Homo sapiens: one gene and its partner. The protein of the gene in region 1 interacts with the protein of each later gene in a pairwise test. Each region holds a gene or a part of one and is shown in the gene's direction. Other genes may lie near its edges.

Region 1 (3,767 bases):
CCAGCGCTTGGGTGCTTCCCACCAGACCCTTCCCTGAGAACCTGGGTTTGAAATTGTCTGACAGGCCTCAGATGTGGCACAGACCAGCATTGTCACTTGGGTGCTAAGAAGTTGCTGTGCTGGTCATGGATTAAGATTGCTGTGCGTGTGGCAGCCGGCTCGGGCATGCGAGTCTTCCATCCACTTGCAGCCCTGCGTCTGTGTCTTGTCCGGGAGGTGGGGGCAGTTGGGAGGGTTAGAGGCGGCTCCTTTCTGGGTGCCCCTGGAGGGGCAGGTGTGGCCAGTCCTCGCTGCCTCTGCTGTCTGGAATGCTGCTTCCCTCTTGTGTCATTGACCATTTCTCGTGATGCTGGTTGTGACTCAGGAGAGTAGATGACGGGCCGTGTGCCGGCCGGATGTACGCTGACGGTGCCTCTGCTGCTGCAGGTGTACGCGGTGGAGGCCAGTGAGATGGCACAGCACACGGGGCAGCTGGTCCTGCAGAACGGCTTTGCTGACATCATCACCGTGTACCAGCAGAAGGTGGAGGATGTGGTGCTGCCCGAGAAGGTGGACGTGCTGGTGTCTGAGTGGATGGGGACCTGCCTGCTGGTGAGGGCGGGCGTGCGGGCAGCTGGGGGCCGGAGCTGGGGGGCTTCTGAGCACGGGCTCGGCTGGGCCAACCTCAGGATCTCAAGGGTCGTGCGTGATTCATTTTGATGTTTTCCCTAATGTGAGGTCTAATTAATTTCTTGTGTGGACATTGGCTCAGTGTCTTGAATTTTCACCTGATTTAAAAAATGCCTTTATGAGAAATTTAAGTCAAAGTTCATGTAACATTTTCATGAGTGATTTACATGAACTGTGTTCTCCTCGGGGATCTGTAAAAATCCTGTGCCTAACAGGTAAGGCTGTTTCTTTAATGCCAGTAGGGCCTTCGTCCCTGGCCAGGGTCTCCTCGCCTTAGACTGGCCCCAGTGATGCTGTGAAGCCACTTGGGCATCTGTAGGGCCAGCATATGCCTGTCCTGTCAGGGTTGCTCACCCTGAGTTTCACATGTGGGTGGAAGTGGACTGTTTTCTGGTTGCCTGTGAATATGCCCTGCACAAACGCTGTCTGCTTGGAGGGAAGTTGACGGGAGTGTGGCTGGATGCTGTCTGCCCGCGCTGTCTTCCTGGGCTCAGCATCCTGGGACACAGGACATTGTAGTGGAGCATCCCAACCTGAAACTTTGTCTCAGTGTAGAGACCCAGAAAGATGGGGTCTGGGTGAAGGAGTGTGGAGTATGGCTGCTGCTTTCCAGGAAACGGTTTCCCCTGGTAACAGATGGCATTGGGCTTTTAGTCCTGTTGAAATTTTGTTGTCAGAAGATAAATGTAAATAGACTCAATGTCCATGCTGTGACTTGGCTTATTAATAACATCTGTGGAGCCATAAGATGACACACAGGAGAAACGGGCTCCACTCCTACCCCCTGAAGGGGCATTTGCCTTTGCCCTGAACAGCAGCGCCCATTCAATAAGTATCTGTTGACAGCTGGTGCCCCGGCCACGGGGACAAAAAGAGGACAGAGCAGGAGTGAGGCTGTGGTGAGGCCAAGGTTGTGTGGGCGGTGATACGGGGAAGCCTGGCTGCTGGAGTGTCCGGCTGTGCCCTGGATTGGGTGAGAGGGACACAGGAGGGACGTGGGGCAGAGGGAGGGGAGAGGAGTAGCCACTGTGTTCACCGTGTTGCCGTGTTCCAGGGCTGCCCAGTGGCCGGATTGGCCAGACTGTGTTGCATCAGGGAGGCAGAGGCCAGATGTAGGGAACTGTGTGTCTGAGGACTTTGTGCCACGTCCTGGACACCGAAGGGAGTGCCACTGGTGTGTGAGTGATGGAGTAAGAGGTGGGCTGTGTTTTGGAGGCCCCTGGGTATGTGTGGCCGGGACTGGAGGCCAGGGACTGGCTGTGGTCCAGCCCCAGCATGCAGAGAGGCCTGGGACATTCTGTGTGAGGGGAGGCCCCTCTGTGTGGGAGGTGCACAGACTTCCAGGACTGACCATGGCTTTATTGTCAGGATGCAGGAGCCAGGGCTTGGCATGGGGCAGGTGTGGGGGATGCAGAGCAGGGCCAGCAGGCAGGATGTGCTGATGGGGGCCTGGCGTGAGCAGGACGGTGCCTCCCAGCCCTGAGCCGCAGGGAGTGGGCCACCAGGACTGGCTGGGGGCCGGGGTAGGGAGGGCCCTGGGGAGGGTGGACATCTGTGTGGGTCTTGAACATAGGATGCCCATCCGATGTGCAGGGCCAGCTATTGGTTGGGCAGTGGGGACATGGCCTGGGGTCTCGGTGGGCGATGGCCTGGAGGGGCCACCCTGAGCAGGACATTTGGAGGAGTGCTGGGGTGAGTCAGACAGGACCATGTGGTGGTTTTCTCCAGTGCAGGCAGTGGAGGGGGAAGGCGGAGCTTTGCAGGTGAGGGCTTGAGGCAGTTCCGACTTCAGACTCCCCCCCAGGGAGACTGAGGGACCACCACCATCATTACTCAGGCCAAGGAGGCCCAGAACAGGGCAGACGGGGCTGCAAGAGTTCCTATGGCGATAGTTGTTGGGGCACAGGGTTGGTCGGATTTGAGGGAGGGAGGGTATGAATCTGGGAGTCGTTGGTGCGGTTGTACCCACCTTCACTTTCCGTCCCCAGGCTGCGCCTCTCCTGAGCTGCCGCATTCTCCCCTGCACCTGTGCGTCTGGCCCTCTTCACGTCCTCCTGGCCTGCTGTCTGCCTCTCCCCTGCACCTGTGCGTCTGTCCCTCTTCATGTCCTCCTTGCCTGCTGTCTGCCTGTTCTCAGAGCCCCTCAGCCCTCAGGCCTTCATCTCTCCTGGCCCATCTTCCTACTCTGACGCTGACATGTAGTAAAAGTCTGAAGACAGAGAAGAGTGCATGTGCGTTTAGCATAGGAGGGGCAGCTTTCAGTCAGTGCAGCAAGGGCATGTAGTTGTTCAGAGATGGTGCTGGAACGACTGATTTGGAGAAAAGAGGCCCTTCTTCACACCATCTGCTAAAATAAACCTCAGATGGGCTCAAGAGTTAAATATTTAAGAAAAGGAGGAAACAAAAAAATTGCTACAAGTTTATTTGTTGTTAGGATGGGAAAGGTTTTTCTAAGAACCAAGTTCATAATGAAGCTGTCAAATAAAATACTTGACAAAAAATTCCCCTTCATACATTAGCACAGCTAAAAACTATTAAATGGTAAATGCAACTAAAGAATTGCAGCTAAAGAATTGTGTGACGTAAAGAGTTGCAATAAGAAAAGCATAAGATAAAGGTAACCTCATGGAAGGTGAGCAGGGACTAGAAAGGCAGAGAAATGCCAGAGGCCAGGAGCTTGAACGTTGTTCAATGCCACCAACAATTTGAAAGTAACTGTAATAGTTTTGACCTGGGAAGTTGGCTGAGCAATCCTCTAATATCTGATGCTCCCGATGCTGAGGTTGTGGGGAAGTGTGCACCGCCATGCCCTTTTTTTGGCAGTGTAAATTGGTAAAGCCTTTTGAAGGAAAATAGGGCAGAATAAGTCAAAGAGCATTAAAATTTTTTTGTTTTTCCAGAAGCAGCAAAGTTCTGAAGGAGACGCAAGTAAAGATACCACAGGTGTCCTAGATTGTCAACAGACCATTTAATCATTTTTGTTAACAAAGCAGGTGACAATTGAGCCCTAATTTGCGTTATCATTAGTTGTTACAGGATCTTGCTTGTTCTCCTGAGGCCACGCCACGATTTCCGAGAAGCAGGTTGCACACTCAGCA
Region 2 (3,767 bases), on another chromosome or scaffold:
CCAAGTTTATTTTTCTGTTATATCTTACATTTTCACTGATGTGGAATAAGAATGCTAATATCATGACTACTGGAATAATAGTAATTTTTGTTAATAACTTTAATTTTGCAGTGTATGGAAATTCTCAGTTAATTTGTTAATAACCAGTTCATGTCTCTGGAATAAGTAATTGAGCATTTCAACAAAGCAACCAGCCTCCTATAATGCCATTACTAGAATTGCAGACAATTTTTAGAGATACAGACATTATGCTATAAAAGTACAAATGTAAATTAAATGACAAAGGCTTACATTTTGAAAGGAAAGCATTATATTTGGGCTTTAGCGCAGATTAATGTGAATGAATTCTATTAAGCTATGCTACACTATAATTCTGAATGTGAATTGATTTTACTTAAAAAAATAAGTGTACTTGATTCTTTTTTAAAGAGGGAAGGTATTTATTTTTATTAAAATGTAAACTAATGCTAATTAACAAAATGTTTAATTTCATTGGTATATTTTGTTATTATTTTGTAAAGTAGAAAATGTTTATTCCCCTTACTTTCAGAACTGGTACTAATTCCAAAAAAATAAACTATTCTGTTTTAGCTCATATTTTTTTAAGAACCAATAAGAAAGTGATCTTTAGGCTGACAATTCTCAAAAAAAATTGTGAGATATCATCTGTGCTCAGGTATCTTTGTAAAATAAAATGCAAAGATGAGACCCTTTTTTGGTATTATTCAATTTTTATACATGTTAAAATGAATTACTTTTCAATATGATGTTTATGAGAAGAAAAAAGCATGCCTTCTTTTTTTCTGTTTGCATTTCAGCACCACCACCTCCACCACCATCAAGGGGAGGGCCACCTCCTCCTCCTCCCCCTCCACACAACTCAGGTCCTCCTCCTCCTCCTGCTAGGGGAAGAGGCGCTCCTCCCCCACCACCTTCAAGAGCTCCCACAGCTGCACCTCCACCACCGCCTCCTTCCAGGCCAAGTGTAGCAGTCCCTCCACCACCGCCAAATAGGATGTACCCTCCTCCACCTCCAGCCCTTCCCTCCTCAGCACCTTCAGGGCCTCCACCACCACCTCCATCTGTGTTGGGGGTAGGGCCAGTGGCACCACCCCCACCGCCTCCACCTCCACCTCCTCCTGGGCCACCGCCCCCGCCTGGCCTGCCTTCTGATGGGGACCATCAGGTTCCAACTACTGCAGGAAACAAAGCAGCTCTTTTAGATCAAATTAGAGAGGGTGCTCAGCTAAAAAAAGTGGAGCAGAACAGTCGGCCAGTGTCCTGCTCTGGACGAGATGCACTGTTAGACCAGATACGACAGGGTATCCAACTAAAATCTGTAAGTAAGCTTTTTTTTTTTTCATTTTAGATCCTTTATCATAATGGAATTTTAAAGTAATTTATTGAAAGATATTTTTGAAAAGTGTATTCTTTTTTCCTCTTGCTAATTCATTCTTAACCCTATAAATTTAAAAATACTTTTACATGCAGTGACATGCACAAATTTTTAATTCAGCTTTGATACATCTCTATAGCCATGTAACCCATATCTCTATATCCAAATGTAGGGTATTTCTGTCACCCCAGAAGGTTTTCTCATACCTCTTCCCAGTTAATTTTTCCATAAACAATCACTGATCTAATCACCATAGATTAGTTTTACCTATTCTAGAACTTCATGTGAATGGAATTTTACAGGATGTTTGCAATTCATTGTTCTAGACTTTACTTTCAAATAAAAGGTACTTTAAAGAAAAATCCTTATTAAGCTGTGAGAATTAAAAATAGCCCTACTTGAAACCAATTGTGATCACCTTAGGAAATCTAAACCAGTAGCTTTATGAAAATTAAATCATGTTCCAAAGTTTTCATGTTCTAAAATTTAGATTAGTAGAGAATCAGACCAAAAAAATTGAAAGAGTTGTAATAGAATTTCTGACAGTGATGGCAAATAAATTTAGGATTATCTGATTTGGATGAGGTAATCATTTAATCTTACAGGTCATTTAATCTTCTAGAGTTCAGCAAACATTTTCCTATAAAGGATCAGGTAGTAAAACCTTGGGCTTATATAGGCAGTATGGCCTCTTGTGACCACTCAGCTCTGCTGTTTTACCGCAGAAGCACCACAGACAATACATAAATGAATGGACATGCTTGTGTTCTATAAAACTATATTTGGACACTGAAATTTGAATTTTATATAACTTTCACATATCAAAAATACTCTTATTTTCTTTCAGCCATTTAAAAATGTAAAAATCAAGCTTAATTTTTAGATAGTTTTAAAAAAAAATCCAAGAACAGGCTGGATTTGGCCCATGGGCTCAAGTTTGCTGACTCCTATCCTAGAACCTAACCTGTCTACATTTACATACTTCTTTTGGAGCCTTTTATAACATGTTCTCCAGGACTTCAGGGAGGTCATGGATGATAGAGTTTTTCTGTGAAGTAAATGGAGACGACAGAGGATGTTTTAATTGAAAATTATTTCCCAGTATAGGAATTAAAGTAACTTTCTAGATCTCAGAAACTTTGTCTAAAAGGAGGGTAATAGATAGGAAGCACAACTAATTGAATGAAAACATGTAAACATTAGCATAGATCTAAGAAGACTCTGATCTTTAAAATATATCTAGCTCTTTTCTTTACATGTATTCAGGATGACACTTAAACCTATGAACAGTCATCTCTGTTCTCTTTCCCCCTTTAGATCAGACTAAAGGCCTGTCAAGAGCAGTTGAAGAACTTTAAAGAGTGGTTAGTGGGGAGAATTAATGTCAAAATGACCACAGCCCAGCTTTTACCTTGGAATCTCTGCTAGTTCCTGTGTCATTCTCATTCCCGTAACTCTCACTCCTAACCCACCTTTTTGTTTTCCTTTTCTATTTCCTTTTCACAAACCAACTTTGTTTCTTTCTCTCATTTAGCTATAATAAGGTGATTTAAAATTTTTAACGAATAAAGTTGTATCCTCATTTATTTTAAAAAGTTTAAGAGTTAAATTTCTATTTACTTTCTCCATAACTTTCTCCCATCCCAACTCTCCCTTTCTTTCCAAAAAAAAAAAAAGAAGCAGCAAAACCTGTTAATTGATGTGTAAGAATGGGGGCCATTTTTATCCTAAATAATCACTTTCCTTTTGATTGCATTTATTGCAATCATAGGGTGCATAATCAGTGAACTATTGGCATGTTATACATGTAATCCGAGTTCGTTATTTTTTGAAAAAGACCATTTTGTGGTTGAAATTTCTATGGCTATGTTTCTTTAAATTTTTTGAGTAAATCATCAATTTATTCTGTGATGAATATGATTAACATAAAACCATAGACTTACTTTAAAGAGCTAGTAGGAGGTATTGAATACTCACATATATTTTTGAATTCCATGGTTTTAGTACCTCAAATAGTACTTTGTTCAAGTAAGCACTTCAAAAAATGTGTTTGATGAGAGTATGCTCACTTCTGCTTTGTGCTCTCTGCTTTACATTATCACATTGCTTAAAGGTAGTCTAAATGTCCCTACCGCTGTTGTACCTCCTTGAGAGCCTTGTGCAGAAATACAAAGCTCTGAAACTCTCTGTTATCTTTTTTCATTTGTGGTACTTCTATACTGGAAATAGTTAATACATAATGTTTAAAGCCAAAATACTAAGGAATGAATCTATATCTTAGGGGGAACCACTTTGAATTTTTTTAAAAAAGGTGTTTACTCCAGAAAGAACAAGGAGTATTAGAGGAAGAATTGTACAGATCAAAATGGAA

Evidence for each region.
Region 2: the proteins of PRMT2 (region 1) and WASL interact in a two-hybrid assay, tested with the Homo sapiens proteins (one large-scale study listed by BioGRID and IntAct).

What each region holds. Positions count from the first base shown.
Region 1 is NC_000021.9:46,649,149-46,652,915, forward strand, and holds part of PRMT2 (protein arginine N-methyltransferase 2), read left to right. Parts: intron 1-426; coding exon 427-591; intron 592-2,657; coding exon of another isoform or gene 2,658-2,858; exon of another isoform or gene 2,859-3,696; coding exon of another isoform or gene 3,697-3,767. UniProt on the Homo sapiens protein: Arginine methyltransferase that methylates the guanidino nitrogens of arginyl residues in proteins such as STAT3, FBL, histone H4. Acts as a coactivator (with NCOA2) of the androgen receptor (AR)-mediated transactivation.
Region 2 is NC_000007.14:123,689,919-123,693,685, reverse strand, and holds part of WASL (actin nucleation-promoting factor WASL), read left to right. Parts: intron 1-818; coding exon 819-1,339; intron 1,340-3,767. UniProt on the Homo sapiens protein: Regulates actin polymerization by stimulating the actin-nucleating activity of the Arp2/3 complex. Involved in various processes, such as mitosis and cytokinesis, via its role in the regulation of actin polymerization.